Linked DNA regions of Homo sapiens. The protein of the gene in region 2 purifies or fractionates together with the protein of the main gene of each other region. This does not show direct contact. Each region holds a gene or a part of one and is shown on either strand. Other genes may lie near its edges.

Region 1 (5,235 bases), on a different chromosome or scaffold from region 2:
CATGGTGGATGTTTATTTTTACAATGCCATGCATTATTTCTGAATTCAATTTTTTTTTTTTTTTTGAGGCAGAGTCTCACTCTGTCACGCAAGCTGGAGTACAGTGGCACTATCTTGGGTCACTACAACCTCCACCTCCCGGGCTCAAGCGATTCTCCCACCTCAGCCTCCCGAGTAGCTTTGATTACAGGTGCGCACCACCATGCCCGGCTAATTTTTTGGTATTTTAGTAGAGATGGGGTTTTACCATGTTGCCCAGGATGGTTTCAAAATTTTTAATTAAATAAAACAAAGGAGAAGAACAGGAAGCTGCGGCAATAATAAGGTGGCCTGAATTAGAGTAATGATAGTAGCTATGGGAAGAAGTAAAATATAATTAGTAAAACAAAGATCTTGGTGATGGCTAAGGGAGACTAAGGAATTAAAGACAACTAGATTTCTGACGTGAACTAGTCCCAGCTACTCGGGAGGCTGAGGCAGAAAAATTGCTTGAACCTGGGAGGCGGAGGTTGTAGTGAGCCGAGATTGCGCCACTGCACTACAGCCTGGCGACAGAGCAAGACTCCATCTCAAAAAAAAAAAAAGGTCTTAAATCTACAACTCTGGAGAAAAAAACTAAGTTACAAAAGGAATGCAGATACTCTCAGCATACATATGGTAACTGATGCTCAGGTGTATGTACAGAGTTTAAAAAAACTGGAACAGAAGCTGGAAGGATGGCAATATCTAAAACTGAATTTCTTAGACTATGTGTGGTCTACCTGCATTATACTCTCCCAAGGAGTTTGATAAAAATGTAGAATCCTTCGCTTTACCACCAACCTACTGAATCAGATACTCTGGGTGTCTTGGAAATCTGCATTTTAAGCAAGCAACTCCCAATTCCCCAATTATTTTTGTACAAGGTAAAGTTTGAGAACTACTTATCTAAAGGGTGAGTATGAAAAAGAGCAAGGGCAAAGAAACAAAAACAAAAACAACAAAGTTAAGAAGGAGATGAGCTGGCCAGGCATGGCGGCTCATGCCTGTAATCCCAGCACTTTGGGAGGCCAAGGCAGGTGATTGCTTCAGCTCAGGAGATCAAGATCAGCCTGGGTGACATGGCAAAACCCCGTCTCTACAAAAAATACAAAAATTAGCTGGGTGTGGTGGCACTTGCCTGTAGTCCCAGCTACATGGGAGGCTGAGGCGGGAGGATCACTTGAGCCCAAGAGTTCAAGTTTACAATGAGCCATAATCATGCCACTGAATTCCAGCCTGAGCAACATGGTACAACCCTATCTCTACAAAAAATAAAAAAAAACTAACCAGGTGTGGTGGTATGCACTTGTAGTTCCAGGTACTAGGGAGGTTGTGGTGGGAAGATCACTTGAGCCTAGGAGTTCAAGGTCACGGTGAGCTATGACGGTGCCACTGCACTCTAGCCTGGGTGACAGAGTGACCTGTCTTTAAAAAATAAAAAACATTATGGCCGGGCGTGGTGGGTTCACGCCTGTAATCCCAGCACTTTGGGAGGCCGAGGCAGGCAGATCACCTGAGGTCAGGAGTTTGAGACCAGCCTGACCAGGAGAAACCCTGTCTCTACTAAAAATACAAAATTAGCCGGGCGTGGTGGTACATGCCTATAATCCCAGCTACTCAGGAGGCTGAGGCAGGAAAACCGCTTGAATCCAGGAGGTGGAGGTTGAGGTGAGCCGAGATCACGCCACTGTACTCCAGCCTGGGCAACAAGAGCGAAACTCTGTCTCAAAATAAATAAATAAATAAAAATTTAAAAAATTGAAAAAGTGGGAAAATTATTTAAAGTTCTAATTTATTTCTGTACATTTCCAAGCTCCTCTCACTGCCCTACAGCATAAACAAAGTCAGAATCTCAGTAATTTATAAGAAGAAAAATAATAGTGGACAATATCTGAAAAAATGGACTGAATGAGAATCATTTTGAAGCAAAGGTCTTGGACAAACTGCAAAGGTTTGGCAGATGCCTAGCAAATTAGTGAATAACCACCATGACCTCTCCAGGTGTAACTAAATCCTGGAAGTGTATAAACATAGAAACAGTCCTTTATGACAAAAAAAGATGAGTTACTTTTGAAAAGTACAGAAATAAAGCTGTCAGCTTCACAGTGCCATATGGATGCTCTCTCCCAGATTAACCAAATTACTTAACATCAGACCAAAATTAAACCAGGCCTTCACTTACAAGCTATTAATGGCTGGGCACAATGGCTCACACCTGTAATCCCAGCACTTTGGGAGGCCAAGGCAGGAGGATCGCTTGAGGCCTGGAGTTTAAGACCAGCCTGGCCGACATGAAGAAACCCTGTCTCTACTAAAAATTCAAAAATTAGCCAGGTGTGGTGGTGCACACCTGTAGTCCCAGCTATTTGGGAGGCTAAGACAGGAGAATCACTTAAACCCAGGAGACAGAGGTTGCAGTGAGCCAGAATCACACCACTGCACTCCAGCCTGGGTGATAAGAGTGAGACTCCGTCTCAAAAAAAAAAAAAAAAAAAAAAAAAAGAGGATCTGTACTCCGAAGATACCGGCCTGACCGGGGGACAAAACGATTAAGTAAATGCCGAATGAACTCACACTTATTTAGGACCCTTCCACACCCACTTACCCTGAATCTTAAGTTACCACAAAACATTCTATGGAGATAAAGCAAACTGGAAAAGAAGATACCTTTACTTCATTATTTTCATTTTTGCTTTTATGTTTCTTTGTAGTCCTTCATTTGTAAGTGTTATGAGAGGAAAAAAAATCTACTGAGTACAAGGTGCTCACTTGCATGCTACTGCAGACTAATCCATTTTTACTTACTATTGCCACGAAATGCCACACATTAGTTACACGACTTTGAGTGACTTTCTCTCTTAGGAGTTGTACTACATAATCTTTAAGAATGTTTTCCAAATCTGAAAGTCCACAGTTCTAAGTAAGATTGGAGAAGAGGGAAATAGTGACAAAGAATACGAATATTAAAATGTATAAGACAGCTGATACAGATGATACTCTTAATTTACTTAAATTTTTAGCCCTCCAATTATGAAGAAAAAGAATATCCAGAGGCAGAGAACTCAGTACTAGCAATACAACTTCTTGATTCAGTAAGGCTACAACTAACAAACTGGTAACATTTCAAGAGTTTCTCTGTTAGCTGCTACCTAGAGCATGGAACATATATTTTTTTCAACAAAATGAAGTGCCATAGAGTGGTTAGGCTCTTAGGCAAATTCACAAGTTTAACCTTTGATGCAAGTAAATTACCAGACACTGATTAAAAAATAGAAAATAGAATACAGAAAGTAGATATTGCCAAACTAGGGATTAAGCAAAAACAACATCAAAATGAAACAACACAAAATTTATCTTGAAACCTATTTTTCAAAAAGTCAACCAAAAGAGCCACAGGCCTGATTACGCTAGTGCTCCTTTTAGTAACTAGATTATAATAGCTCACTTCTTAAGTCCATGGGGTCGAAGTTAAGGACCCCTGCTTAAATAAAGTGAGATGGGCTTACTAGGTTTCAGGTACCAGCGACAGACACTAGGGCATCAGAGGTATGTCAAAGCCCAAAGCTAGGAAAACAGCACAGAGCGGAGAGGAGAAGAAGACGGGGTTTCTCTTAGCCTTCCCCTGACACCAGTGGAAAAGGAACTTAGTGATTGGAATGTTCTCTCCACATCCCAGCTCCAGGATTCCCTGGACCATATTTGGGAATTCAGTGGCAGCTCAGTAAACATAACCTAAAAATTGGGGAAGGTATGCTTCCTAGCTGAGGCAGGGATTGTGAAATGCAACAACTTGCTGGGCATGGTGGCACAAGCCTGTAGTCCCACCTACTCAGGAGGCTGAGGTAGGAAGATCAATTAAGGCTGCAATGCATGGGAGTAACCATGCACTTCAGCCTGGGCAATAAAGAAAGACCCCCATCTCTAAAAGAAAAAGAAATAATTCCTTTAACCATCATGCCAAGTAATGGACACCAGCTGCTGCCTGCAGCAGCCCCAGCTCTGACTGTGAAGAGGTTGCCTGCAGGAATGTATGCTCCTTGCTCTTACTTAACCCCCTTTTCAACCCACCAAAGGATGTACCATTTCCAATACATACGCATGTTGACAAGTCTGCGGTATGTAACTGGTGGGTGCCTATCTTTATTGTCTGCTAAACCTTGAAATATAAAAAATCAAATGAATTTTCATCTCTCCTGGGAAAGACTCCTTGATGTACTTAAAAAGTTATAATGGCCGGGCACAGCGGCTCACGCCTGTAATCCCAGCACTTTGAGAGGCCAAGGTGGGCGGATCACAAGGTTTGGAGTTTGAGACCAGCCTGTCCAGTATGGTAAAACCCTGTCTCTACTAAAAATACACACACACACACACACACACACACACACACACACACACACACAAATTAGCCGGGTGTGGTAGTGCATGCCTGTAATCCCAGCTACTCGGGATGCTGAGGCAGGAGAATCACTTGAACCCGGGAGGCGGAGGTTGTGGTGAGCCAAGATAGCGCCATTGCACTCCAGCCTGGGCAACAAGAGCAAAACTCCATCTCAAAAAAAAAAAAAAAAAAAGTTATAATGATGGTTGGACAATTCAGATTTTTAAGTCATAAGTACTTCTTTATGATCACTGTGGAAAACAATGACCCATATATCTAATCTGGGTGTGTTTAATATTAAAGGTTCTCAAAAGGTATGTACCACTCTAATTTTCTAAAAGCTGTTAATCCAGTTAGCCCTTAGCCCTTTGCCTGGTAGTAGGTCACTTTAAAACTGAAATCACACTTATGCTCTCATTCAAATATTGTAACCAAGAATAAGCAGCAAGAATTTGGTATGTCAGGACAAAGTATACAGATGGTCCCCACCTTTCGATGGTTCAACTTATAATTTCTTGACTTTACAATGCTGCAAAAGTGACATGCATTTGGTAGCAACTGTACTGAGTGCCCATATAACCATTCTGTTTTTCACTTTCAGTGAAGTATTCATGAATTACATGAGGTATTTTGATACTTTATTGTAAAAGATGCTGTTAGATGATTTTGCCCAAATTTGGCTAATGTAAGTATTGTGAGCACGTTTAAGGTAGGTTAGGCTAAGCTACAATGTTTGGTAGGTACATTAAATGCATTTTTGACTTACAGTATTTTCGACTTACAATGAGTTTATCAGCACATAACCCCTTCATAAGCTGAGGAGCATCTGTATATAC
Region 2 (6,023 bases):
TTGTATAGAACCACACCTGGCCTTGGTTCTTTTGTATAGTTTCTATTTCTCCTCTGAGATTTCCTATGTATTCATTGGGAGCATATTTTCCTTTATATATTTGAGCATAGTAAGAGTATCTGCTTTAAAACCTTTGCTATTTCCAACAACTTATTCCTGGAAGTCAATCTTCATTGATTATCTTTTCTCTTAAGCATGGGTGACATAGTACTCTTTCTTCATGTGTTTGATAAATTTGTTTTTATCTTAGAAATTGTGAATGGTATACATTGTTGAGACTGTGTGTTCTGTTATATTTCTCTGGAGGGTGTTTAAAAATTTTTTTTAATTTTGTTTTTGTTTGTTTGTTATTTTAGCAGGCAGAAAACTCTGTGTCCTGAGGTGAACAGCTGAAACTTCTGTTCAGGTTATTTAACCTTAGCTGGGCTCCTTGGAGTTAGCTGGCAGATGTATAGTTCAAGGGTCATCCAGAGATTTGGGTAGAATTTAGATGTAGAATTTGGGGCTCTCTTCTCTGGTTTTTCTTTTGAGAATTTCCTTTCTCCCTATCCAGCCCTTGTGGTCTCTGCTTCTGAGGTTATGATATGGGTAGTGTGGTCTGCTGGTCTTGAGTTAGTAAATTCTGGCTTCAGCAAGATAGAAGGCACACTGACAGAAAGAAGCTGTCTTGGTAAGGACACTAGTGCAGGGATGGCTCCAGTGAGTAGAACAGTATATGCTTGTAGCAGGTAAGACTGGAGCCAAGCTGATTAAAATTCAACCCCAAAGAACACACAAGTAATAAATACATGAAAAGATGCTTATCTTGACTAATACTCAAGGAAGTACAAATTAGAACCACATTGAAATATCTTAGCCTATCAGATTGGCAAAGATGAAAAAGACTGATAATGTTTACTGTTGGTGAAGGTTACAGGCATTCTTACATTGTTGGTGAGAGCAAAAGTCTGTGCAACACTTTTTATGTAGGGCCATATCTCAGCATCTATCAATATTTTAAAATGCTAACCCTAAGACCCCACAATTCTACCCCTAGCAATTTATCCTACAGTAGGACTCACTCTGTTGTTTGAAGATCCATGCCCAGAATTATTCACGAAATTCACTTAAAATAGCATATATGCTTGAACCCAGGAGTCTGAGGCTGCAGCGAGCTATGATCATGTCACTGCACTCCAGCCCAGCCTGGGCGACAGAGCAAGACTCTGTGTCTAAAGAAATGAAAATAAAAATAAATAAAATAGCATATACAGGCAACAATCCAAATGTTCATTGCAGAAATTATGATTATTATTGTTTTTCTTTTAGAGGCAGGGTGTCACTCTGTTGCCCAGACTAATCTTGACCTCCTGTGATCCTCAAGAGATCCTCCGGTCTCTGCTTCCCAAAGTTCTTGGATTACAGGTGTGAGGCACTGGGCCTAGACATTGCAGGGATTATTAAACCATGGTGCATACTACCATTAAAGGTATGAGGTAGGTTTTATATGCTGACCTAGAAAGATGGTGCAACACCATAGGGGAACAAGAAGGCTGCAAAGTGGCAGCACAGCAGGAGTCTTTAAGAAATAGGTATTTGTTTCAGCTTAAGAAGTGTCTGGCTGGGCGTGGTGGCTCACACCTGTAATCCCAGCACTTAGGGAGGCTTAGGTGGGCGGATCACTTGAGGTTAGGAGTTCAAGACCAGCCCAGTCAACACGGTGAAACCCCATCTCTACTAAAAATACAAAGAAATTAGCTGGGCTTGGTGGCAGGTGGCTGTAATCCCAGCTACTCAGGAGCTGAGGCAGGAGAATCATCTGAACCCGGGAGGCCGAGGTTGCAGTGAGCCTAGATCGCACCACTGCACTCCAGCCTGGGTGACAGAGTAAGACTCGGTCAAAAAAAAAAAAAAAAAAGACCGGGTGCGAGGTGGCTCTCGCCTGTAATCCCAGCACTTTGGGAGGCCTAGGCAGGAGGATCACAAGGTCAGGAGATCGAGACCATCCTGGCCAACATGGTGAAACCCCATCTCTACTAAAATACAAAAATTAGCCGGGTGTGATGGCACACGCCTGTAGTCCCAGCTACTCAGGAGGCTGAGGCAGGGGAATCGCTTGAAACCAGGAGGTGGAGGCTGCAGTGAGCCGAGATCACGCCACTGCACTCCAGCCTGGCGACAGAGCAAGACTCCATCTCAAAAAAGAAAAGAAAACAAACAAACAAACAAAATCCCCAAAAAGCAAAAGTGTCTGCATGGACTTGTGCCTAACTACTCACAGTGGCTACTTCTTGGGGGAGGTGAAAGGGGACCCTGTTAAAGAATTTTTCTTCTGTATTGTTTTTCTTCAACTGAGTCTGCATTAATTTTATATTTAATACTCTCCCCACCCCTGATGCTCACAGGTTGCTTTAGCTGGTGGAAGGAGAACCTGCACCTCTGGTTTTGGCAAAGTGTAGAAGGGGACAAGGGCACTGCTCTGCACCTGCACAGGTTCTTGCCTCCTGGGGTCAGTTTAATGAATCTCAGTGGTGTTTCTTGGGAAGAACACAGTGGACACTCACTTGCCAGTCAGTAGACAAATCACTGAAGTCCATGTCTGGCAGTTCTCAATGTCATGGGGACTGTAAGGTTGTCATGTCTCACAGTTCCCTGACTTAGAAGATTAGTGGTGACAGACACTTCTCAGCTCTGCTCGGGAGAGCAGCTCTGTAATGCGCTTGTGGTTTCAGATGTGGGCGGCCTGTGTGAACCTGTCGTGCAAAGCTCACGTCACCAACTGCTGCAGTTATCTCCTGAATCAGGCTGAGGGTCTTTGCTGTGCACCCAGAGATAGTTGGGTGACAAATCACCTCCAGGTTGGGGATGCCTCAGACTTGTGATGGGACTGGGCAGATGCATCTGGGAAGGTGAGTCTGTGCTTTGGGCTTCCCAACCTCTCAAGTCAGCATGAAATTCAGAAGGCAGAGAGGGACATGTGGCCCTCCAACTCGGGGCCCAGGGAGCCACTGTGGCATTTGAGAGCGCCACCCTAGCTTTACCTCCTCTGGTGTCCTGGCCTTGTGTATCTCTTAGAGATGGCAAAATTTGCAGCCCTGACCTCAAGGATTACAAACTAATTTCCAGTCCTGTAGGGGTCATGGGTTCTGCTGTGGCCAGTGTGGCACTGAGTTTGTCAGGCAGAATTTCTAATTATGGAAGGAACTCTGCTTCCTCAGTGATTGAACTGACCTTTGTGGGGGTGCCTTTGTGGGGTGAGAATGGGCATACTTGGGCCTCAGTTGTGATGGCCATGGGGTGGAGCTGAGGTCTAGGCCCAGGGCTGGGAAAGCTTCTACCAACCCCGAGGCATTTGGGTGTTTTAGGGCAGAAGAGGAGCCAGGAGGATGGGTATGCCCCACTGGAGCTGTGTGTGGGGCAGCAGGTGAGGGTGGGATTCCAGAGGGAGGGTCAACCCAGCCAAGCAGAGGAAGGGGAGGAGAGGGTTTGTTTTGGAAAGAACATCACCCTCTCAGTTTCCTGGGGTCTGGATAGCCTGTTCTTGTGATGAGCTGGAGGATGTGGGCCCTGCTTGGATCCTCCTCTCCCCTCCCTGCCCCCATTTTCTCTTCCTGTGATTTATGCTGTTCTGGGCTCACCCTCTTCCCAGAGCTGTCACGCTACAGCTGACAGGCAGGGCAGGCGTTTTAATTATTATTAATTTTTTTTTGAGACAGAGTTTGAGACAGTATCAAGAGTGGGTATCCTCTCAGCGTGTCTTCAAGTAGCATCCCAGAGCCCCGCTCCTGGGTACCCACAACATGAACACCGTCCAGAAGCAAGGGCAGCCTCTGCAGGTGGGGCGGGGGTTGGAAAACATTTATCAAACGGTTGAGTTGGGTGCAGGGGATGCAACATGATCAAACAGGGTCTTGCCTCCAGGAGCCTCATGTAGGGACAACGCACAGTGATGACCTTCAACTGCAGTGGGGCAGCAAGGCTGTGGGAGGGGTGTTTTGGGCAGAGCAGGCGACGTGGGTACCTCTTCACCAAGACAGCAGGAAGAGCACGGACATCATTTTCCCGTCTCACCTCCAGACTCCCAGGGGACTGTGCCAATATCCTCACTCCAGCCCTGGCCCATGGCCACTGCTCAACCCTTGGGCCCTGTCAGTTCAGGGCTGTGCAGAAGGAGAGTTGCCTGTGCTCAGGCTCAGGGGTTCCGTCCAGCTAAGGAGGCCTACTAGGGGACTGGGGAAAGGCCTCATGAAGGACCAGGCCTGTGATGGGGAGGGAAGATGGCAGAGGGGACAGTGGGAAGCAGAGCAGCAGGGGTCTCCTCCACGCCTCTCTGTACTTCTCCCACCCACCCTTGCCTACTCCCCTCTGCCCTGGGTATGTGCCCTTGTCCACCCAACACCTCTGCAGTGCCAAGTCCAGCCCTGACTTCTTCCTGAGCTGTGGCCCAGCGTTCCCACAGGCATTTACCTCACGGATGCAGCACTGCCCCTCATCCTCTTCTCTGAAAGTGTGTGGGAAATGCTTCTTGGTGCCATCTCTCTCCCACCCTGCCTTCCCTGCACCTTCTCTATGAGGTGTCTGTTGTCTCTGTACTTGCCTCCAGCTGGCCTTTCAGACCCCATCCCTCCTGCCTCCTGCCCATCCCTACCCCTGTCAGCACCTTACATACTCTGTGCCCAACAGCATTGGGGATTCCCACTGTGCTGAAGGAAGTCCTCATGTGGTCCAGAGAGGGAGCTGGCCCCTGCTCCCATTTCCAGCACCATTTTCTGGCACAGGCTCCATGTCCCCAGGCTCCAGCTGCTTCTGGGGTACCAAGGTCTGCATTTCTTCCTCTTCCCCCAGCAGACAGAAGACCTTGCTGGACAGGTGTCCACTTCAATAGTAACTTCTGAGGCTGCCAGCCTCCTGAATGGTCCAGAAGAACCAGACCCTTCCCCGCCCCCATTAAAAAAGACAAAATATGGCCAGGCATGTTGGCTCATGCCTGACATCCCAGCACTTTGGGAGGCCAAAGCAGGTGAATCACTTGAGGCCAGGAGTACGAGACCAGCCTGACAAACATGGTGAAACCCTGTGTCTACTAAAAATACAAAAATTAGCCAGGCGTGGTGACTCATGCTTGTAAATGCTTGTAATCCCAGCTACTTGGGAGGCTGAAGCAGGAGGATCACTTGAACTCGGGAGGCAGAGGTTGCAGTGAGCCGAGATCACGCCACTGTGTTCCAGCCTGAGCGACAGAGCGAGACTCCGTCTAAAAAAAAAAAATATATATATATATACACACATATATATATGCATAATAGTCTCTGTGTAACAGTAAGTGGATGCAGTAACTGGTGTGAGGGCAACTTGGAGAGTGTGCTTGGAGGCACAGAGATGCTCAGGGCTGCCTGGACTGCCTCCATGATGGTGGCCTGCTCTGTATTAGGTGAGTGTTCAGGAAAGGTGAGGGCAGGGCAGCCCACAGCTTCACAGTGGCCCAGGGAAGCAGGGCAGGCAGGCTATGAGGCCTAGTAGGCATCTGGGCCAGACTTTGACACTGAGGCCATGGAATGGGTGGGGCTCTGAGAACAGACCAAAGTGATCATGGGCTGAAGGCTATGTCCACAGATCCAAGGCGGGATAGGCTGTGCTGGGCAGTGATGTCAGCCAGGCTCCCCAGCGGGACTGGGGGTGTCAGGGGCAGCTCTGTCCCAGGTGGCAGACACTGGTTTCCCCTCCTGCTCTCACAACCGGCCTGTTACCAGGTGTTGTCTGAGCTGTGGTGAGGCTTCCCTGGTGACATTCAGGAGCAGGGAGCCTGTGAGTAAGGGTGTATGCATCTGCCCTGACTGCCTGGCCCTGTGGTCAAGGATGGGGGAAGGCAGCTCTGCCTGCAGCTCCACCCCATTTATAAAGCACTGTGGTGCCTTCTGCTGGGGCATGTGCTGAGTGGTGCCTCGCAGGCACTGCCCTCGGGAAGTTCACAGGCTTATGTGGAAGCTGGTGGGAATGGGCCAAGAAGAGAGGTGTCAGGAGCCAGGTATTGGGCAGGTCCCAGG
Region 3 (5,235 bases), on a different chromosome or scaffold from region 2:
GGCCAGGTCGAGAAGGGTCGAAGTTGGCCAGCTCCTTCTCCATGTAGTACAGGACCCGCATGGAGTCGTCCTGCTGGCTGGCCTGAATCCTGTAGCCACTGCGGACTTCTAGGGACAGGGGGGTGGTGGTCGGTTTGGGAGGATGGATCCTGGCCCACCCCTCTCCCTTACAGGCACATCCAACTTCGGGACGATGGATTCTCACCAGAGGCCACACTGCTGTCCGTGTCCCGAAGCAGGGGTACATAGGAGCCTTGGCCACCAGCTGGGGGAGAGTGGCTGTCAGTGGCCGCGCACCAGGAGCAGAGCCCCTCCTCGGCTCCCAAGACACTCTTCCTTCCAGCCCCTGCCCCTCAGTGTCCAGATGCCCAGCACACTCCCACCAGCTGTTCCTGCTTCCCCCGGCCTCACCTGAGCTACTCCTGTCAACGTCTCCAGGGTATCCTCCAGGGTACCCGTTGTAGGCAGGGCCCATGGGAATCATAGCTGGTGGGGGTGGGGTCTTGGCGGGAGACAGGTGGGCATAGGTGCTGGGGGCATAAATGCTGGGAACACCTGAGGTGGCTGCTTTGCCGGCGGCATACACTGTGAGGACACAATCAACAGGAGAAGGGGGATGAGGCAGGAGCCAGGCTGCCCCATACCCATTGGGTTCCGGAGGGACCTGGGCCTGGACCTCCTTCCCAAGCCGTCCTCTCCGCTGTAGAGCTTCCTTGGACATCTGAGTCCCTGTTGGTCCTCATTCCATTTCTGCAGCATCCCTGAGGCTGGGGGACACCAGCTTCACAGAGACCCCACCCCACTTCCTGTGTGATTTTTCAGAGGGTGCACGCAGGCACCCACAGCCCCAGGGTGGCAGAACAATGTTTCATTTAACAGCATGGTAATTCGCCAACATTTGTCAATCAAAAGGTTTTACCTAAACTTCCAACTCCCCAGCTAACTTACTGGAAGAAGTGGCCACCCATGGTCTGTGTGTTTACAGGGCAACAAAGCTGCCCTTTATATAAAGCCCAGATGCTGGGTCCACCACTGTCCCCACAAGCCGAAATCAAGTATCCTCTTTGGCAGCCAAGCCCCTGTTCTAGAAAAAATGAGTCATCTGGGAGACGTGGGTCCTGCCCACCTGGTCACCTTCCAGATTGAGATGCAGTGGCAGGAGCCTCGGGAATTAACTTGCCTGCCCCGGCCAAGCAGCAAAGTGTCTCCTCTAGTGTTTCTAACTCATGGACTGCACCCATTTCTGCCTGCCCCACCAGGCTCTAGGCTTGACAGTTCAAGGTAAGATCCTCCTCCCTTCCTTCCTCCCTAGGGCAAGAGGCTTGCAAAATTCCTGGGCCCTAGGCAAGTGGCTTCCTCCCTGGGACCCCAACAGGAAAATGGAGGAGAGAGATGGGCCCAGAGAGGGTGCCTCACCTCTGATTTGGTTTGGAAGCAGAAGACTAAGTGCACAGCCTAGAGGAAGCCCCTTCATTAGCTCAGGCAGCCTGCAACTTTATCATCAGCAGTGGGACCTGCTGCCTCCTGAAGGGTGGGCGGAGGCTGTGGCAGCAGCAGATGTAACAGGGCCTCTGCCAGGGAGTTAATGGGGCCCTGGGTTGGGGTAACAGGGTCTCCGGATGGAGGAAATGTGGTGTGGGGACAGGGGAATGTGGCATTGGGACCAGCATTTAGTCCTGGCCCTAGCTCTGGTCTTAGTGGGTTCACTGCAAACTTGGTTGCAGCCCATCTGTGAAATGGACCTAACACTTACTCACTGAGCAAAAAGCTGTCAGCTGAACACAACAAGAGGGAGGGGATGGGATGGCCTGCATAAGCCTCCAGGGAGCAGTGGAATTTTTTCAGGGAAGTGATCCTTTGAGGAACCAGGTTGCACACCACTGACTTCAATGACTATAAAATTAGCCAGCGACTTCCTTAATGCTAACAACAACCCATGAAGTCAGGACCTAACAGAAGGAAACAGGACTCAGAGAGGGAAGGCTGCTTCTCTGGGGTCACTCTGTGTGCACCAGGGCTCTGACTGGTGCCCTGTCCCTCAGTCACTACTGAGGCTGATAGTGGCAGTGCCCAGCAGCTGACAGACGTAGAATATTTTATATAGGTTGGGCCCCATGCTCAATGGTGTGCACATGAGCTCGCCAAATCCCCAGATGCACCCAGTGTGGTGAGCTCTGCCATAAGCCCCATTTTATAGGGGATGACACTGAGCCCTAGGGAGGGAAACTGCTCACTGGGCTTCTGAGCAGGAAGGTGTCAAGCAGGCCTCAGCTCTCCACCTGCCCATGCTTGCAAGGATTGCCTGGCACTTCACTGTTCATGTATCTTGGACTGTGTGCACACAGGCTGGTCTACCCAGACACCCTCCTGAAGGAAACCAAGGACTGGCAACAGCTGTGGTCCCCGAGGAGGGGAAACGGGACAGCAGCTAGAGGGATGCTGAAGTGTCCATCAGTGCCACTTAGTGTACACACTGTGGTCTGGTGTCCCAAGGCTGATGGCTGTGACCACGTCAATCAGCTCCTCTGTGAAAGTGTCCCGTTGGGATATTCACAAACATTCACAGAAGAGAGACAGGAGCAAGTCTTTTTCAATTGCACATGTCTGACTCCTCTCATAGAGTTAGGTCCCTCTCTCTCTGTCTTCTGTCTTCTCTTACCTTCCCCTGCTTGGTTTGCTTACTTCCCCTTTAGCTCTCATCTCACATCCAGTCCCAGCTCTCCACAGTAGCCATGCTGGTGTGCTAGATACGACCCTAGACATAGTAGCTGGGTAAAATGTGCAGCATTCCTGTGGGTATGTGTTTTCAAACATTTGCTTAAATTTGGCCAGGCATGGTGGCTCACACCTGTAGTCCTAACACTTTGGGAGGCCAAGGTAGGGGTGCGGGGGAGCGGACTGCCTGAGGTCAGGAGTTCGAGACCAGCCTGGCCAACATGGCAAAACCCCGTCTCTACTAAAAATACAAAAATTAGTCAGGCGTGGTGGCAGGCGCCTATATCCCAGCTACTCGGGAGGCTGAGGCAGGAGAATAGCTTAAACCCGGGGGGCGGAGGTTGCAGTGAGCAGAGATCACGCCACTTTACTCCAGCCTGGGCGACAGAGTGAAACTGTCTCCAAAAAAAAAAAAAAATTTGCTTAAGTTTAAGGCCAGGTGTGGTAGTTCATGCCTGTAATCCCATCACTTTGGGAGCCTGAGGCAGGATCACTTGAGGTCAAGAGTTCAAGACCAGCCTGGGCAACATAGCAAGACCCTGTCTCTACAGAAAATTTTTAAAAATTGGCCAGCATGGTGGCACATGCCTGTAATCCCAGCACTTTGGGGAGGCTGACTTGGGAGGATCACCTGAGGCCAGGAGTTTGAGATCAGGCTGGGCAACATACTGAGACCCCGTCTCTACAAAAAACAAAAATCAAAAAATTAGCTGGGCATGGTGGTGTGTGCCTACAGTCCCAGCTGCTCCAGAGGCTGAGGCGGGAGGACTGCTTGAACCCGGGAGTTTGAGGCTGCAGAGAGCTATGATCGCACTGCACTGCCTGGATGACAGAATGAGACCCTTTCTCTAAAACAAAAAAAATTTTTTTTGCTTAAATCATGTAGTGTTGTAAACCTTGTTTGGTTTCTTAACTTTTTCACTTAACATTTTTTTTTCTTTTTTTTTTGAGACAGAGTCTCACTCTGTCGCCCAGGCTGGAGTGCAGTGGCGTGATCTCAGCTCACTGCAACCTCCACTTCTTGGGTTTAAGCGATTCTCATGCCTCAGTCTCCTGAGTAGCTGGGATTACAGGCGATCACCACCATGCCCAGCTAATTTTTGTATTTTTAGTAGAGAACTGGGTTTTACCATGTTGGCCAGGCTGATCTGGAACTCCTGACCTCAAGTGATCCACTCGTCTTGGCCTCCCAAAGTGCTGGGATTACAGGCGTAATCACTGCGCCTAGCCAAGATTTGGTTTTTTTAGAGGGCTTTACTTCCATGTGACTAGTATCTTGTACTGTTGGACATTTTTACCATGTGTATGGATTATACTTACAAAAGAAAAGAACAACATAAATAAAAATAAACTAAAAGTTGGAGGAAGTAAACGACAATCTAAACAGCAGACCCTCCTCAGCCTACTTTCTCCCCACTGGCTAAATTCACACCCTCCAGACCAACGCCACTGTCCTGGGGGCAGGTGGATGGCCACCTCCTTCCCTTGGATGCAGGATGTTGCCCAAACCAGGGTGGCCATGAGCGGGACACTTACGGGCCTCGGGGCAGCAGCACTTGTCTGGGCAGCAGGGGCACCTGACGTAGCAGCAGCAAGTGTGCGGGCAGCACTGGCACCAGCAGATGCCCAGGAGGAGGAAGATGAGGAAGGCAGCCAGGCATACCACAACCACGAAGAGCCAGTCTGCAGAAAGACAACAGGCCCTGAGCCCGGAGGCCTGGGAGGGAACAGGGCTAACGGCACAGCAGGGGTACATGGTGCGGAGCCAGCACTGAGGTCGGGGACGATTTGCAAAGCTCACCAAGGAACCTGCAGCCCTGGCTGGATTTTTTGTGCCAGAGGCTGGGCACAGCACACTCCCCATTCTACCATCCCGGCCATTCCCCAGTTACGGCCCTCCCCCAGGTGCAAAAAACACAAGGCAGAAAACGAGGCAGCCTGCACAGAGGGAGACAGACTGCAGCCCCCAGACCAAAGAGAGAGCCAGCTGCCCAGACGCCACACCCTCAAGAGCACCGCAGGTGCCAGTCACAGAGCCCTGGCCTGCACCCCAGGCTCTCCTCAGCCCAGCCTAGCCTAGGCCCAGCGCCAGACCACTAGATGCCTCAGAGCCACAGTCAGGCCAGGTTAGTGAGGGGTCCACAGTGAGCAGGGTTTAGTGGGGAAGGGGATACTAACTAGAGTCAGAAGCAGTAGGTGATGTATGGGAGCTCCCGAGAAGCCCAACTCAGGATCCACCCCCCGTACCTTCTATGGGCCCCGCCTGAAAACCAGGTAAGAGCTCAGCCACCCCTGAGGTCCTCCCTGGAGGGACAAAAGAGAAACAGATTATGCTGGCCAGAGCCAGCCCAGGCTGTGCCACCCCCGAAAGCCCAGCTCCAGGCTGGCCAAGTGCAAGGTGTGCCCTGAAGCGGGAAGGGGCTGGGGGCTGAAGCCCTAGTGCATGGCTCCTACCCTCCACCCGCCCACATGTGGGTGCTTATAGGTAAGAAACTCCCATTGCATAATCCACCTGTGTTA
Region 4 (5,235 bases), on a different chromosome or scaffold from region 2:
TCTCACTGTGTTGCCTAGGCTGGTTTCAAATTGAACTCCTGGGCTCAAGCGATCCTCCCACCTTGGCCTCCCAAAGTGCCGGGATTACAGGCTTGAGCTACCATGCCCAGTTTTAATTTATTTATGTGATGTAAAAGCCAACTAGATCAATTTGCTTTCCCAGAGAGGCTTGAGCAGCCTTATCTGTATCTGCTTTCTGAGAAAACTCTTTTAAGATCAGGGGGCTGGGATACCCTGGTAAACAGTTCCACCTGATGGATGTTGGCCTCCTGTACTTTGATCTCCTGGGGGCTGGAACGAGATGGATTCAAAAAGTAGCCATGATTTTCTACAACACCCGGAGTCTTTAATAAGCAGGAGATACTCAGAATTACTCCCAGCAAGGTCTTCTGGTACATTTGCCCATTGGTAGGGTCCTTGGGCTGAATGTATTCTACAAAAACCTGTAAGAGAAGACAAGTTCTGCTTATTCATCTTCATGGTGAGATAAGGTGATGGGGTGGGAGGGCCTCAAAACAGTTAAGTTGATACAACAACCAAGCTATCTTTTTCTTATTTTATAGGTAGTATTATAGTGTCTTCAGGATAGGGAAGCATCATGTATTACACATCTAGCTCAACTGAATACATATCATCTTTCAGACCTACCTTTGCCATATCTTTTTGCCTAGTGAAATAGAGAAGAATATCCAGATATGCATACAAAAGGATCTGACAGAGCTCTAGATCTTTTATTCGGCCCAATAAAATATCAAACACTGGAATCATGACTTCTGGAAATGTTCTAACTTCCTCATCCAATATCAAGGCTTCAATGACCTCTTCCAGAAACTCAGTTACATCTTCAAAATCTAACAGAAGACAAATGAGAGAGAAAGGAGGGCACAAGAATTTTTATATGCCTTTACACACTAGCTCTTTACTTTCAATAATTCTTTTTTTTTTTTTTTTAGAGCTGGGGGTCTTGTTTTTTTGCTCAGCCTGGAGTGTAGTGGCTATTCACAGGTGTGATTATAGCACACTACAGCCTCAAACTCCTGGGCTCAAGGGATCCTTCTGCCTCAGCCTCCAGAGTAGATGGGACTACAGGGGTGTGCTACCATGCCCAGCTTTATTCTATTGGTACTCAACCTCAAAGATCAAGATGTGAGCCCTCCTCCTTAATTTATACCAGAACCATAATGGCTCTGAGACTTTCTAATGCAATTAGTGAAATTTTAAATCTGAAAATCAAAATGTAGAAGCTTACAGATCTTGTTCATGTACTCACGGGCTCCCTGGATGGCTTCTAACATCAAATCTACCAGTTGCTCATGGATGTTTTGGTCAACATAGATCTCTGGGGTGAGAAGAACTGTTCGGGTATTGGACACAGTGAGGTTTCTGCACTGCACTGCAAAGGGTAGCAGGTTCTCTGGAACTTTGGTAATCTGCAAACAGCATGAAGAAAAGAGGGAATAGTCTAACTCTGTAATCTGGAACGAAAGTAGACATAGTGAATACAATAGAAGAGACATACTGGTCTCCTGTGGATGCTTGAAAATTAATTAGAGATTCCTTCCTTGGCTTAAGGAATCATCTATCTGCCTATTTAAAATTCCAAACCTGGAAATATCCGGCTTAGCCTACTCTAATATTTACATCTCAGTGGAAATGAATTCATGAGCCCTTTTCTGATTTTTGAGACAGAGTCTCGCTCTGTCACCCAGGCTGGAGTGCAGTGGTGTGATCTCAGCTCACTGCAACCTCCACCTCCCAGGTTCAAGTGATTCTCCTGCCTCAGCCTCCTGAGTAGCTGGGATTATAAATGTGTGCCACCATGCCCGGCTAATTTTTGTATTTTCAGTAAAGGTTTTGCCATGTTGGCCAGGCTGGTCTCGAACTCCTGGCCTCATGTGATCCGCCTGCATCGGCCTCCCAAAGTGCTGGGATTACAGGAGTGAGCCACTGTGCCCAGCCTCATGAGATTTTTTTAAGGATGTGATTTCTAAAGAGGTTTTAGAGAGAATAGGAGGCATTGGTTAACTGGGGAGAAGGGTGGACCCCAAGATACGGAAAGGAGACTAAAGCTTTAGTGCATCTGATATCCAGTGTTCTAAACATACTATGACATATATAAATTGATATAAAAGCTTTAGTGTCCCTGATATTCACTTCTAGACATACTATGACATATATAAATTGAAATAAAGACTGATCCAACTCTGGCCCACATGCTGAAGTCATACCCAAGAGGACAATACAGTATTCAATGGGGATTATTCCTTTACCTCTTCCTTGGCTCTCTGGAAGCAGGAGTAAAGGTAACAAAAAATGTGCCTCTCTCCTGCATCTCGATCAGCAGAGAGATTTAGCGTTGTAGAAGAAGTCATGTTAATTAAGTGGTTGCCTGGATCTTGAAGTAATAAGCGAGCGAAGAGGGCCTATAAAGAAAACCAAACAAAAATACTAAACTATTGCAAAATTAATCTGAGAACATTAAGATGTAAAAGGTAATTCTGACACAGGTTATTAGCAAGAATCACAGATTTGAATGTAGAGTGAAGGAGAAAAAAAGGGCCCTGTATATTTTTACTTTAGAAAATTTTAGAAAATTATGGCATATATAAAGTTATCCTAAATCAAGCCTCAAGTGTCTAGTATAGCCCCAGCATAGAGTAGGCATTAAAAGACTATTTGTTGAATGGTGCTGAGATCAGTGATTAAACTTAGATGTGAAATCTACTATTCTGTGTGATTGCTGATCTCATTCAGACTTATATAAAGATACTCCAAATGTGAAGTTAAACTGCAAGCTGTCAACTGTCTTTCCTACCAAACTTTTATTCTTTTAATGTTACTCAGGCACCTGCAAGGTACAACGCACTGTTTTGATTTTTAAAGTGCTGTGGTTTATATGTTTGTCTCCAACAAAATTCATGTTGAAATTTGATCTCCATGTGGCACTGTTGGAGGTGGGGCTAGTGGGAGGTGTCTGGGTATGGAGGCGGATCCCTCCTGAATTGCTTGGTGCTTTTCTCAAGGTGCTGAATGAGTTCTTGCTCTCACAAGACTGGATTAATTCTCATAGGAATGGACAAATTCCCTCCAGAGCGGGTTCTTATTAAGCCAGGACACCTCTCAGGTTTTCTCCTCCTTGCATGCGTCCTCATGGTATGTGTCCTTTGGTGACTTCCTCCACCACATTGTGAGGCAGCACAAAAGCCCTCACCAGAGGCCAAGGACATACCCTGAATCTTCTCAGCCTGCAGAACTGTGAGCTAAATAAACTTTTCTTTATAAATTACTGCTTGGGTGTTCTTTTTTTTTTTTTTAGATGGGTCTTTCTTGCTCTGTCGCCCAGGCTGGAGTGCAGTCGTGTGACTATGGCTCACTGCAGCCTCTGCCTCCCAGGCTCAAGCAATCCTCCCACCTCAGCCTCCTGAGTAGCTAGGACTTCAGGTACATGCCATCACACCCAGTTAATTCTTTGTATTTTTTGTAGAAACATGGTCTTGTTATGTTGCCAGGGCTGGTAACTCCTGGCCTGGAGATCCTCCCAACTTGGCCTCCCAAAGTGCTGGGATTACAGATGTGAGCCACTGTGCCTAGTCACAGGTATTCTTTTATAGCAACACAAAACAGACTAAGATAGAAAGGATATAAAGAAGAAAAAGCGATGGGCCTTGCCCTTAAGAACTTAAGTCTAATAGGGGAGATAAGACAGGTACATAAGAAAGCCGCAACATGAGACAGAAAGTGACAATTCCCACAAGAGATTCAGAGGCTGATTATTCTAGGTACCCAGAGGAGGGAGTAACAACTTTTATTTGGCAAGGCTTTGTAATTTTTTCTTTTTTTTTTTTGAGACGGAGTCTTGCTCTGTTGTCCAGGCTGGAGTGCAGTGGTATGATCTCGGCTCATTGCAACCTCCGCCTCCTGGGTTTAAACCATTCTCCTGCCTCAGCCTCCCAAGTAGTTGGGACTACAGGCGCCCACCACCATGCCCAGCTAATTTTTTGTATTTTTAGTAGAGACGGCGTTTCACCATGTTAGCCAGATGGTCTTGATCTCCTGACCTCGTGATCCACCTGCCTCAGCCTCCCAAAGTGCTGGGATTACAGGCGTGAGTCAATGTGCCTGGCCAAGGCTTTGTAATTAAGAAGGCATTTTAACTGGTTCTTAGAGGATGGGTAGATTTGGGCATGTGGCCATGGTAGATGAAAAGATTCCAAAAGAGGAACACCACAATGTTAGAGATGCACATCCAGGTTACTTGGCCTTCTACTGGTAAAAAAAAAAAAAAAAAAAGAGAGAGGGATGGACATATGGACACAAGCATAAGTTGGAGAACAGTGAGCAGAATTCAGCCGCATAGCTAATTTTTGCTAAGGGCACACATTAGGAACGTAAGAATATTACCTGCTCAACATTGCTCATATCAAGCCAGTCTTGATCTTCTAGCTCTACTGCCATTTCTTCCAAATACACACAACGGCTAGGGATGCCATTCCCGCTTTTCAAGCTGGGATCACCTGGGAAATGGTTTTAATATGATAGGTTAAGGATAATGCTTCTGTTTTATACAGACAACTGATCTTGACAGCATCACTCTTGAACTGCAAATCTGACTCAAGTAATACCAGAATGATCCTGATACACAAAGCAACATCTAAAGATTCAAATCTTTTTTTTTCCCCCTCTAGTCACAGAGAATGGGATTTGTTATAAACCTAGCATCATGACATTTAAAGAGTAAATCCCAGACATTAGTACCAACCTTGGGGTTTAAACACAGACAGGGCACAGAGGGCAAACACTCTCTGATGCCTCTGAAGGCTTCCATCTGAATATTTAGGTTACCTCTGAGAAGAAAATGGGTTTGGCTACCCTTCCCATTTCCTTTTTAAGGTAGTAAAGGCAAGTAGCTATATAGTGCAGTCAGTATTGAAATGGGAACAAAAGTTAGATCTGCATCTAAATACTGTTTTTAGGTCATACCAAAAGGTTCACTGAAATATAAACCCTGAGTTCCAGGGAGTGCAGTGAGTAGGTTTGTATCTAACCATTAGCTGTAACCAGTTTCAAAGAGCAAGCCCCTAGCCCAAGCTCAAATAGGAAGGGTAGAATAATGCTATAAGTTTGTAACTCACTGTTGTCCAGAGTAATAAGGAAGATCCTTTGGATCATGTGATTGATGTTGAGTTGCTCACATATTTCCTGCTGTGATCGGAATGAGCGGCTAATCTCAGCCAC
Region 5 (4,193 bases), on a different chromosome or scaffold from region 2:
AAGCACACAGCAAGATTACACATCCTAGTCTTCCTTTAAGTTAGGTATGACCCTGTGACTAAGTCCTCTCACAGGAAATGTGAACATAAATGATGCACGTGTGGCAGCCTCGCTTTAAAATCTCTCAGCAATGTTCCTCCATCTCTTACTCCTCTGACTGACTGGGATGGAAATGATCACAGCCACCTTAGCAGCCACGTTTTTTTGGTTGTTTGTTTTGAGATGGAGTCTCGCACTGTTGCCAAGGCTGGAGTGCAAAGGCATGATCTCGGCTCACTGTAATCTCTGCCTCCCGAGTTCAATTAATTCTCCTGCCTCAGCCTCCTGAGTAGCTGGGATTATACGCACCTGCCATTACGCCTGGCTTATTTTTGTATTTTTAGTAGAGACAGGGTTTCGCCATGTTACTAAGGCTGGTCTCAAACTCTTGATCTCAGGTGATCCACCTCCCTCGGCCTCCCAAAGTGCTGGGATTACAGGCGTGAGCCACCATGCCCGGCCCAGCAGCCACATGTTAAACAGCAAAGCCTCCCTTGACCTTGAGGCCCAGAAAAACCTGCATGGGACAGAGCCTGCCTGGGATGCCTGGCCTGGGCTATGTGAATCAGTAATACAATTCTTGTTCTTAAAGCCCCCGAGATTTGCGGGTCTGTTAGCACAGGCTGGACTGTCGTAATACAGTTATCAATCTCAAGAAGCTCACATGTTCCAAGAAAGAATTTCTATTACTGTGAAATATGTTCCAAAGAGCATTCAAGACTAGAGCAAAGCAGGGGGTTAAATTTGTAATTCAGTGTTGTTGGCTTGAAAGCTGCATTTTGCTATAGGCAAGGATGAATAACCAAAGTCATCTAGGCAGACAGCACGACAGACATTTTTCTCTGTATAGGCAAATAAGCATTCTGAGCCAGTATCTCTGAGGGAGGGCCTTGGTGGTATGCAGGTTTAGTAACTGTCTTCTCACTACACACATCCCCCACCATCTTCCAAAAGACAAAAATCCAATCTCCATTGTTTCAGTCTCTGAGGGTGTTTCAAGGACCCACCTTACCACCTTGATGCTTTTCCACTATAGTGGTGGGGAGAGTTAGGTGTAGAAGGGAGTTTTCTGAAAGCCCCAAAGACAAGACCAATCCACAGTGTCTTGGGGGATTAGTAGCATCCCTTGCCATCTGGCTACCCCAAGACCTCAGGACAGAGGGAGACCCCAGAGGTTTCTGATGGCAACACACTGGCTGGAAGAGCCTTGGATCTTTGGACCCTGCCTTGGTTTTGTGCACTTTCCAGAGCAACTAAAGGGCACATGGTCTGAGTTTCACCGAGTCAGGAAGGGAGAAAGAGAGAGAATGAATGAACAGACTAGATGGAGGATGGACACGAAGGAAAATTTTTTTTAACAAATTAATATTTTTTGCTGCCTAGGCAAATGGCTTTTGTGAAAACACTTGTATGAAAAGCAATACACCATTTGTTTTTACTTACCAATCACTATCATTAGGTTTTGATGCAAATGGGAATTTACAATAAAATGAAACAAATAGGATCAGGGATTATATACAATACTGTGATCAAGTGATTTGTGATTCAGGCAATGTACTACTTGAAACACATATCTGGATTTCTCATTCCAATTGCTGCAGATGCTATTTGAGGAAGCAAAGAATACAGAAAGAAAAATAATTAGGTTCATTAGGCTAAGACTAATACCAGTAATATAAACAACAAATTTATAACATATTGCATTGCAAATAAGCAATGTTTTTAGTATAAAAATTGCATTTCCACAAAGAAGCTAATAACAAATACGATTAAACCACTTCAGAAACACGTCAAAGTTGTACGAGTCACACATATACAGTGTCACAGTCTACATAAAGCTTTACTGAGAATAAGCCATCTGAAGGGCATGTCCCGGGCTGAAGCGATCAAAGGGCTTTTCAACTGAAGTTCTTACTTCCAGAAAGCTGTTCAAAAAGCTGCCCCATCAGGTTCAGCAGGCTTGATGACTCCAAATTTGGCTTTTTAAGACAAGCTAAAATCTCCTCCAGAGAATCAAAATGTAGGACTGAGGTAAAGAGATATTAAACAAGAAGGAACTTTTCTGTTGGCATAAGAGATTTGAATGAATTCTTTCGAAAATGTTGGTACATTTGACAGGATGGGTCAACCACATATTCATAATACTGACAGAAATAACACTGTAACACCAAGATGAGGGACACAGATAACCTATTGATACGAGCAACAGAACCAGCCTCCCTCTTCTTTCTCTCACTTCATACTAAAGATTTTATGCTGAAATCTCAGGTTTGCCGTAACTTTTCCACCTTTTTTTAAAATTTATTTTTCTCTGGACTTCTAATGTTTCCATCCTATGAAACAACATACCAGCTCCACTACTGATGCATTTGGTAATAAAAAGTCACATGGTAAGTATTTGCCTTAAAAATGACTTTTATCGTCTACCCCAAAGGTGTTTTTACAGGATGCAGGTTCTGTAGACTGACATATTCCCAAATCATATTAGAACATCACAGCTGTCAACAAGGAATTTTGGCCATAAAAAGTCAAATTTTGTTTTTTTTCCACTATCAAAAGCCAACTCAGCTGAAGCTTATCTATTTTCTACTACAGTAGTTATTTTGAATGTATAGAGCTAAAGAGGCCTGTGGCTAACAGACAGGGATTCCATGCACAAGAGCTTTTAAGTATGTGCCCATGCAGTGCAAGGCCCTGTGAACCCAACAGGCCCTGTCCCTCATCCCATCCAATGACTATACTTCAAAGGGAAAGAAAGATGTGGATTGCCTGTATGTTGCTTCAATATGAGATCTCTGAGCAAGCTGGGTTGGTTTAGCAGATCTAGCAAGAGACAAATAATAAGAGAAACCAACATAAAGGTAATCAGAAGTTTCAAACTTTCCTTCTAATTGATGAAAAGATACCCTGCTCCAACTCCCCAAACATAAAGCACTGCACATTCCCATTCCAAAACCAGTTACCTGCATTGCATTCACCTAATTTTAATTTACATAAAATACCATTCTGTGACTAAATAACTGATACTGCAATAGAGGGAAGCATGATTTTAATTTTTTTTTTTTTTAGATTTTAAAAATCAAAATCATGTTTCCATGCACTTGAGTTCCGGATCAAATATATTATCTACAGAAAAAATCCACAAACTCTTATCGAAATGTTCATATAAAGTTTAAATTATTTCAGGTTGGCTTTTCTCCTTTAGTTTTATATTCATTAAGTATTGAAAACAAACCTAAAATCTTCAAGTGGAAAGATATTAAATTAAATTTTGTTGGAAAAAAACCCATCTTTGCCATGATGTTAAAAAAGGGAAAATCAGGAAAAATGGTTCCCACAGATATTTAAAGTTTTAATGGGTCCTCTTCTCCAAGATGTTTTTCTCCTCACCCTTCAATTTTTTTTAAAAGTATTTCTGAGAAAGAAAGTACATTTTCTGCCAGGTACGGTGGCTCACACCTGTAATCCCAGCACGTTGGGAGGCTGAGGCGGGCGGATCACCTGAGGTCAGGAGTTCAAGACCAGTCTGACCAACATGGCGAAACCCCGTCTCTACTAAAAATACAAAATTAGCCAGGCATGGTGGCACATGCCTGTAATCCCAGCTACCTGGGAGGCTGAGGCAGGAGAATCCCTTGAACTAGGGAGGCGGAGGTTGTAGTAAGCCAAGATTGTGCCATTGCAGCCTGGGCGACAACAAGAGTGAAACTCCATCTCAAAAAAAAAAAAAAAAGAAAATACATTTTTCTTATTATATAATTAGATATAGGTCAAATATCCCTTATCCAAAATGTGTGGGACCAGAAGTGTTTCAAATGTTTTTGGATTTGGGGATTTTTGTATATATATAATGAGGTATCTTGGGAGTAGACCCAAGTCTAAACACAAAATTCATTTGTTTTATATACACCTTATACAACATAGCTTGAAGGTAATTTTATCCAATATTTTTAATAATCTTGGGCATGGAACAAAGTTTTGATTGCACTGTAACTGCCACCTGTCAAATGAGGTCAGGTGTAAAATTTTCCACTTCTGACGGAATGCTGGAACTCAAAGTTTAAGATTTTGGAGCATTTGGGGTTTTGGATTGTTGGAACGGAATGTTCAACCTGTACTATTTGGGGTCCGGTTGGAAATTGGCTTTACATTTT
Region 6 (5,235 bases), on a different chromosome or scaffold from region 2:
GATCATGCATCGGAGGCAGCATGATGAGAACCTGGATTCCAGCCCTGAATGTGGCCTTGGGAGGGTCGCCCCACCCTATGTGCTCCAGTTACCTCCTCTGTAGACGAAGTGATTGGGCTGAATGCTCTCTAAGGTCACGTTCAGATTTGTGACCGTGAGTTTCTGATTGTGACTTCTCTTGGGCTCTGTTGAGTGTGGCCCATTTCGCTGCCTGGGGGCCTTAAGACACCCTGGCGATGTTGCAGAACCTCCTGGGTCCCTATTATTCCTGACCACAGGGCCACAAGGTGTGGGCCAGGGGTGTCACACACAGTCCCTTACACTGGAGAGAGGAGACACTCATTCTGTTGTGAGCCTGTAGCTCCAGCGTCAAAGCCTGACTCTGGTTTGAGTCCTGTGCAGCCCCCAGGCCTCCCTGCTGAGGAGTCAATGCTCAGCGAGCTAGGCCAGCTTCCCCTGGCCGCTCCTCACCTGCAGCTCCGAGAATCTCGCCATGAAGCTGAGGTTCCTGCTGACGTCCACCTGCGCAGGTGAGTGCAGCTCCCGTTCCCGCTCCCTCTGCTCCTGGCCTGGCAGAACAGACAAGGGCATAACAGATAGAAGTAGCACAAGGTCAAGAGCTCAGAGCAGAAGCTGTCAGTGCAGCAAAAAGCTGGCTTCCTGCCTTTCTAACAAAGACCCCTTATCGAACCGCATCATTCCACTTAGCTTTCCCCACCACACCCAAGACTGCCCGGTCAAATGAGGTGATTTCGACCCTGAGAAAGCTCCACTTGCACGGGGATAAACTGGTTGCCTTCCAGCGACACCTCGGAAGAAGCGTCTTGAGTTATTACTGCAGCAGCTGAGTGCAGGGTGCAGGGAGGGAGATGACCTGCCACCGAGCATGGAGAATGTGCTCAGTTCCCTTCCCACCAAAATGAGAACTCTGGGGTGTTATCAAATATTGAGCAGCTGAAAGTACATTCCAGGAGCGGCGGAAGCCACGCCGCGGACTCACTCGCGCCGTATCGGTGCTCCTCCACGTTCCACACCGTGCTCCCGTGGTAGCCCCGGGACAGCTTCTCCCCGACGATCTCCAGTTGCCGATACCCCCAGTCAGGGAGGTGAGCCCCGCTCAGCTGGTGACACCGCAGGAGAGTAAAGGGCGTGATGGGAAGGCCGTGGCTCCCGTGTCCACTTGGGTTGGAAGGGGAACCCCTGCCCGGGTCACGCTGTCAGCAGGTGCCCCTTGTGGGAGATTCACATTGGGATTCCATCCTGAGAAGTTACAAAAGCCGCCCTCCCTCAGTGTAAGAGGAAGCCATGATGACTCAAATGAAGCGTTCCGCCTGCAGAGAGGCGGTGAAGCCTGAGGGGCTTGGGAAACAGACTGGAGCCCACAGCTCAGGACAGGCCAAGCCACGGACAGTGTCCTTACCTTTAAGACAGCGGAAGTGTTCACGTGCACAAAGCGGACCTCTGAGAGGATGGTCTTCCAGACGTCTGTGTCAGATCCTCTGTTCACAATTTCCTGCAAAAAGACATCTCAAGGATTATTTCATTCCTTTTCAAATTTCCTTCAATGTAAAAATAAAGACCTGTCACCAAACAATGATACTGACTTGAGCCTGAGACAAAGGGACAAGTCCCCAAGTGAGGGAAGCTATAAGGGGCTGGTACTGGCCTTCCTTCCCAATGCCCACAGCACCCCGGGCTGCTCCGAGGGTCGCTGGGGAAGTGCACCCTCCTCCTCGCCAAGGCCGTACAAGAGGCCTCCTCACAGAAAATACAAAGCCTGATGTTCTTCGTGCCTCTCTGCAAAGCCTATTCATAGGGCTCAGAGCCCTGGCCAAAAAGTGAGCAAGTCTCAGTCCCTATCTGGCAGGACTCGCAGACAGCTCAGATGAAGGCCAGACACTGTCCCTGCCAGACACAGCTTAGAGATTTCCTCGCATCGAGTAATAAAAAAGACAACTAACATCTGAAAGGCACTTTGCCTTGTCACAGCCTGACATACTGGAGCCTCACAATGACCCCATGACATCACATGACTGTCATTTTCCCATACTGTCACAACCAGAGAACCCAAGAAGCTAGGCAGGAGCAGGCATGAGGAGGCCTGGCCGCGGTCCATGCCGCAGGCCGGGCGCGCACACCTCACGCATGCTCCCTCCTTCCTTGTTCTATGAACTTCAGACACCTGAAATGTGGGCTCCTGGTGCCAAAGGGGCCATCAGAAAGGACAGAGAAGGGTGCCCGTGAGAAGGGGCACAGCACTCACGTCAGGGAAGGACTGTGGGGGGGCGGGGATGGAAATGCAGAACGCACACAGATATGCAGAGCACAGAGACGGCGAGTGGGGCAGAGGGGCGCACTCTGCACAAAAATGGAACAGCCAATCTGGAGCAGTGGCTCACACTTGTCATCCCAGCGACTCTGGGAGGCTGAGGTAAGAGGACGGCTTGAGTCCAGGAGTTCAAGACCAGCCTGGACAACATAGCAAGACCCCATCTCCACAAAAAATTTTAAAAATCAGACTGTCCTGGAATAGAAAAAATATTTTAAAAATTAAATATTCAAAATTAACAGGGGCCAGGCATGGTGGCTAACCTGTAATACCAAGAGGCAGAGGTGGGAGGATCACCTAAGCTTGGGAGGCCAACACTGCAGTAAGCCAAGATCACGCCACTGCACTTCAGCCTGGGTGACAGAGTGAGACCCAGTCGCAAAAAAAAAAAAAGAACATCAGCAGATACCTGGCTTTGCTGTGAGGGCTGGCCATGAGGACGTGGTGCTAACTCTGTCAAGCGAAACAGGGCTGAGCCTGCGTAGGCAGAAAGCGCTGAAGCCAGTGGGAAGCTAGAAGGGGGGGTGTGACCTCACTATGGAAATAAGCCCAGTGCCTTCACTGTGGTCATGGGGCTGGGCTGCATTTAGTGTCCATGTCCTTAGATTCAGATGGCAACATGGTCCAGTAACAGAAGACTTTTTATGGAACCTTTCCCAGGAGACCCGATTCCGTAAGGGGAGCAGGTGGCCCTGGTCGCTGGAAGGAAAGGTGACCACAGACCCAGCGCCTCAGGAACATCCCCCGCACTCACGGCTAAGCCTGTCCCCAGGGAAATCCTGAGAAATGGAATTTCTCCTGGATCATGGTGGCAGAGGGGTGGCTGGAGCTCGTGTCCTGTGTTCAGGACCTGCTCCTGAGGCTAAACAGGTTGGGAGAACTTTCACCTGGCAGAGCCTCAAGCGCACCTGGCACCCAACATGGAGCAAACACAAAGCATTTAGAATCTCAGTGAACACAGGCCTCTGATGCAGGAAACCACCAGGTTCCCCAGTTCCACCAAGGAAGACGCATCGGTTCCCTGTGAAAACATCTGTGACTTTATGTACGAATAAAACTTATGTAACTTTACATCTGAATCAGAATTATTCTAAATATCCAACCTCAACTGGGTAAACTGAAAAAAAGGAAAAATGATTATTCTCAACGGCAGTTTCAAACATTCCATGTCAGGAAGTGCTCCGTGTGAGCAAGTGCTCCGTGTGATGGAGTGCTCCCTGTGAGGAAGTGCTCCGTGTGAGGAAGTGTTCTGTTAGAGGAAGTGCTCCGTGTGAGGAAGTGCTCCGTGTGAGGAGGTGTTCCGTGTGAGGAAGTGCTCCGTGTGAGGAAGTGTTCCGTGTGAGGAGGTGTTCCGTGTGAGGAAGTGTTCCGTGTGAGGAAGTGTTCCGTGTGAGGAAGTGCTCCGTGTGAGGAAGTGCTCTGTGTGAGGAAGTGTCCTGTGTTAGAGGAAGTGCTCCGTGTGAGTGTGAGAGTGTCCTGTGTTAGAGGAAGTGTTCCGTGTGAGGAAGTGCTCCCTGTGAGGAAGTGCTCCATGTGAGGAAGTGCTCCGTGTGAGGAAGTGTCCTGTGTTAGAGGAAGTGCTCCGTGTGAGGAAGTGCTCCGTGTGAGGAAGTGTCCTGTGTTAGAGGAAGTGCTCCGTGTGAGTGTGAGAGGAAGTGTCCTGTGTTAGAGGAAGTGTTCCGTGTGAGGAAGTGCTCCCTGTGAGGAAGTGCTCCATGTGAGGAAGTGCTCCATGTGAGGAAGTGTCCTGTGTTAGAGAAAGTGCTCCCTGTGAGGAAGTGCTCCGTGTGAGGAAGTGTCCTGTGTTAGAGGAAGTGCTCCGTGTGAGGAAGTGTCCTGTGTTACAGGAAGTGCTCCATGTTAGAGGAAGTGCTCCGTGTGAGGAAGTGTCCTGTTACAGGAAGTGCTCCGTGTGAGGAAGTGTTCCGTGTGAGGAAGTGTCCTGTGTTAGAGGAAGTGCTCCGTGTTAGAGGAAGTGCTCCGTGTGATGAAGTGTTCTGTTAGGAAGTGCTCTGTGTTAGGGAGTGCTCCGGGTGAGGAAGTGCTCCGTGTGAGGGAGTGTTCATTACTGACGGTTGTGGCTGCTATAGCCGCAGCCTTACTCACCAGTCTCCAGAGGTTCTGGGCGGGCATGGAGATGTTATAGTCAATGTAGCAGGAGACCTCCTGTGAATGGGGGCTCAGGGGGGCTGCAACATCATGCCTGGAAAACCAAGACCGAGATTTCAGAAAATTCCTTGAACTCCTCTGGAAGGCAATTACTAAATCTTTCAGGCAGGAAAAGGTTGCTTTTCAGAAACAAAGCCGGCTCAGCCATAAGGGGTGGCCCAGTCCCATGAGTTGCTGCTACTGAGGACGGAGGTCTTGAGGCTCGGCGATGGGAGTGGACACTAAACAGGCAGGAGGCCCTGTGGGAACATCTCCAAAAGAAAAGGACACTCTGCTGTGGAACCTTCCACCTGTTAGACGAGCGAACCAAGTTTCAGAGGAAGGAACCGTGCGCCCAGGCCCGATCCGGTACTGCTGCGATGCCAGCTGGCAGTACCAATGCTACAACTTGCAGGGCTGAGCTGCCCGCCCCTGCGCCCAGCTGGCCTGGGGACGCAGCAGATAAGCTGGGAGAAAAGGCTATCAACCTCAATGTTAACGAACACCCACTTCTTTTTTGTTTTGAGATGGAGTCTCACTCTGTCACCCAGGCTGGAGTGCAAATGGCGCGATCTCAGCTCACTGCAATCTCTGCCTCCTGGGTTCAAGCGATTCTCCTGCCTCAGCCTCCTGTCTAGCTGGGATTACAGGCACATGCCACCATGCCTGGCTAATTTTTGTATTTTTAGTAGAGACGGGGTTTCACCATGTTGGCCCAGCTTGTCTCCAACTCCTGACCTCAAATGATCTGCCCACCT

Evidence for each region.
Region 1: the proteins of IL9R (region 2) and TTC17 purify together in Homo sapiens (affinity purification with mass spectrometry, with the first as the bait; one large-scale study listed by BioGRID). This does not show direct contact.
Region 3: the proteins of IL9R (region 2) and LSR purify together in Homo sapiens (affinity purification with mass spectrometry; 3 studies listed by BioGRID and IntAct, with this or other methods). This does not show direct contact.
Region 4: the proteins of IL9R (region 2) and UBE4A purify together in Homo sapiens (affinity purification with mass spectrometry, with the first as the bait; one large-scale study listed by BioGRID). This does not show direct contact.
Region 5: the proteins of IL9R (region 2) and TMX4 purify together in Homo sapiens (affinity purification with mass spectrometry; one large-scale study listed by BioGRID and IntAct). This does not show direct contact.
Region 6: the proteins of IL9R (region 2) and POMT1 purify together in Homo sapiens (affinity purification with mass spectrometry, with the first as the bait; one large-scale study listed by BioGRID). This does not show direct contact.

Annotation. Positions count from the first base shown.
Region 1 is NC_000011.10:43,361,336-43,366,570, reverse strand, and holds part of TTC17 (tetratricopeptide repeat protein 17 isoform 1 precursor), read right to left. Parts: intron 1-5,235. UniProt on the Homo sapiens protein: Plays a role in primary ciliogenesis by modulating actin polymerization.
Region 2 is NC_000023.11:155,994,900-156,000,922, forward strand, and holds the start of IL9R (interleukin-9 receptor isoform 1 precursor), read left to right. Parts: upstream 1-2,796; 5' UTR 2,797-2,844; coding exon of another isoform or gene 2,845-2,860; coding exon 2,861-2,888; intron 2,889-6,023.
Region 3 is NC_000019.10:35,261,709-35,266,943, reverse strand, and holds part of LSR (lipolysis-stimulated lipoprotein receptor isoform 2 precursor), read right to left. Parts: intron 5,020-5,235; coding exon 4,963-5,019; intron 4,399-4,962; coding exon 4,252-4,398; intron 586-4,251; coding exon 412-585; intron 266-411; coding exon 206-265; intron 109-205; coding exon 1-108. UniProt on the Homo sapiens protein: Probable role in the clearance of triglyceride-rich lipoprotein from blood. Binds chylomicrons, LDL and VLDL in presence of free fatty acids and allows their subsequent uptake in the cells.
Region 4 is NC_000011.10:118,368,702-118,373,936, reverse strand, and holds part of UBE4A (ubiquitin conjugation factor E4 A), read right to left. Parts: coding exon 5,133-5,235; intron 4,515-5,132; coding exon 4,402-4,514; intron 2,424-4,401; coding exon 2,271-2,423; intron 1,431-2,270; coding exon 1,271-1,430; coding exon of another isoform or gene 1,250-1,270; intron 852-1,249; coding exon 649-851; intron 444-648; coding exon 252-443; intron 1-251.
Region 5 is NC_000020.11:7,975,982-7,980,174, forward strand, and holds the end of TMX4 (thioredoxin-related transmembrane protein 4 precursor), read right to left. Parts: 3' UTR 1,365-4,193; downstream 1-1,364.
Region 6 is NC_000009.12:131,514,723-131,519,957, reverse strand, and holds part of POMT1 (protein O-mannosyl-transferase 1), read right to left. Parts: intron 4,533-5,235; coding exon 4,436-4,532; intron 3,401-4,435; exon of another isoform or gene 2,935-3,400; intron 2,432-2,934; exon of another isoform or gene 2,055-2,431; intron 1,914-2,054; exon of another isoform or gene 1,815-1,913; coding exon of another isoform or gene 1,605-1,814; intron 1,514-1,604; coding exon 1,421-1,513; intron 1,261-1,420; coding exon of another isoform or gene 1,243-1,260; exon of another isoform or gene 1,122-1,242; coding exon 1,001-1,121; intron 570-1,000; coding exon 472-569; intron 1-471. UniProt on the Homo sapiens protein: Transfers mannosyl residues to the hydroxyl group of serine or threonine residues. Coexpression of both POMT1 and POMT2 is necessary for enzyme activity, expression of either POMT1 or POMT2 alone is insufficient.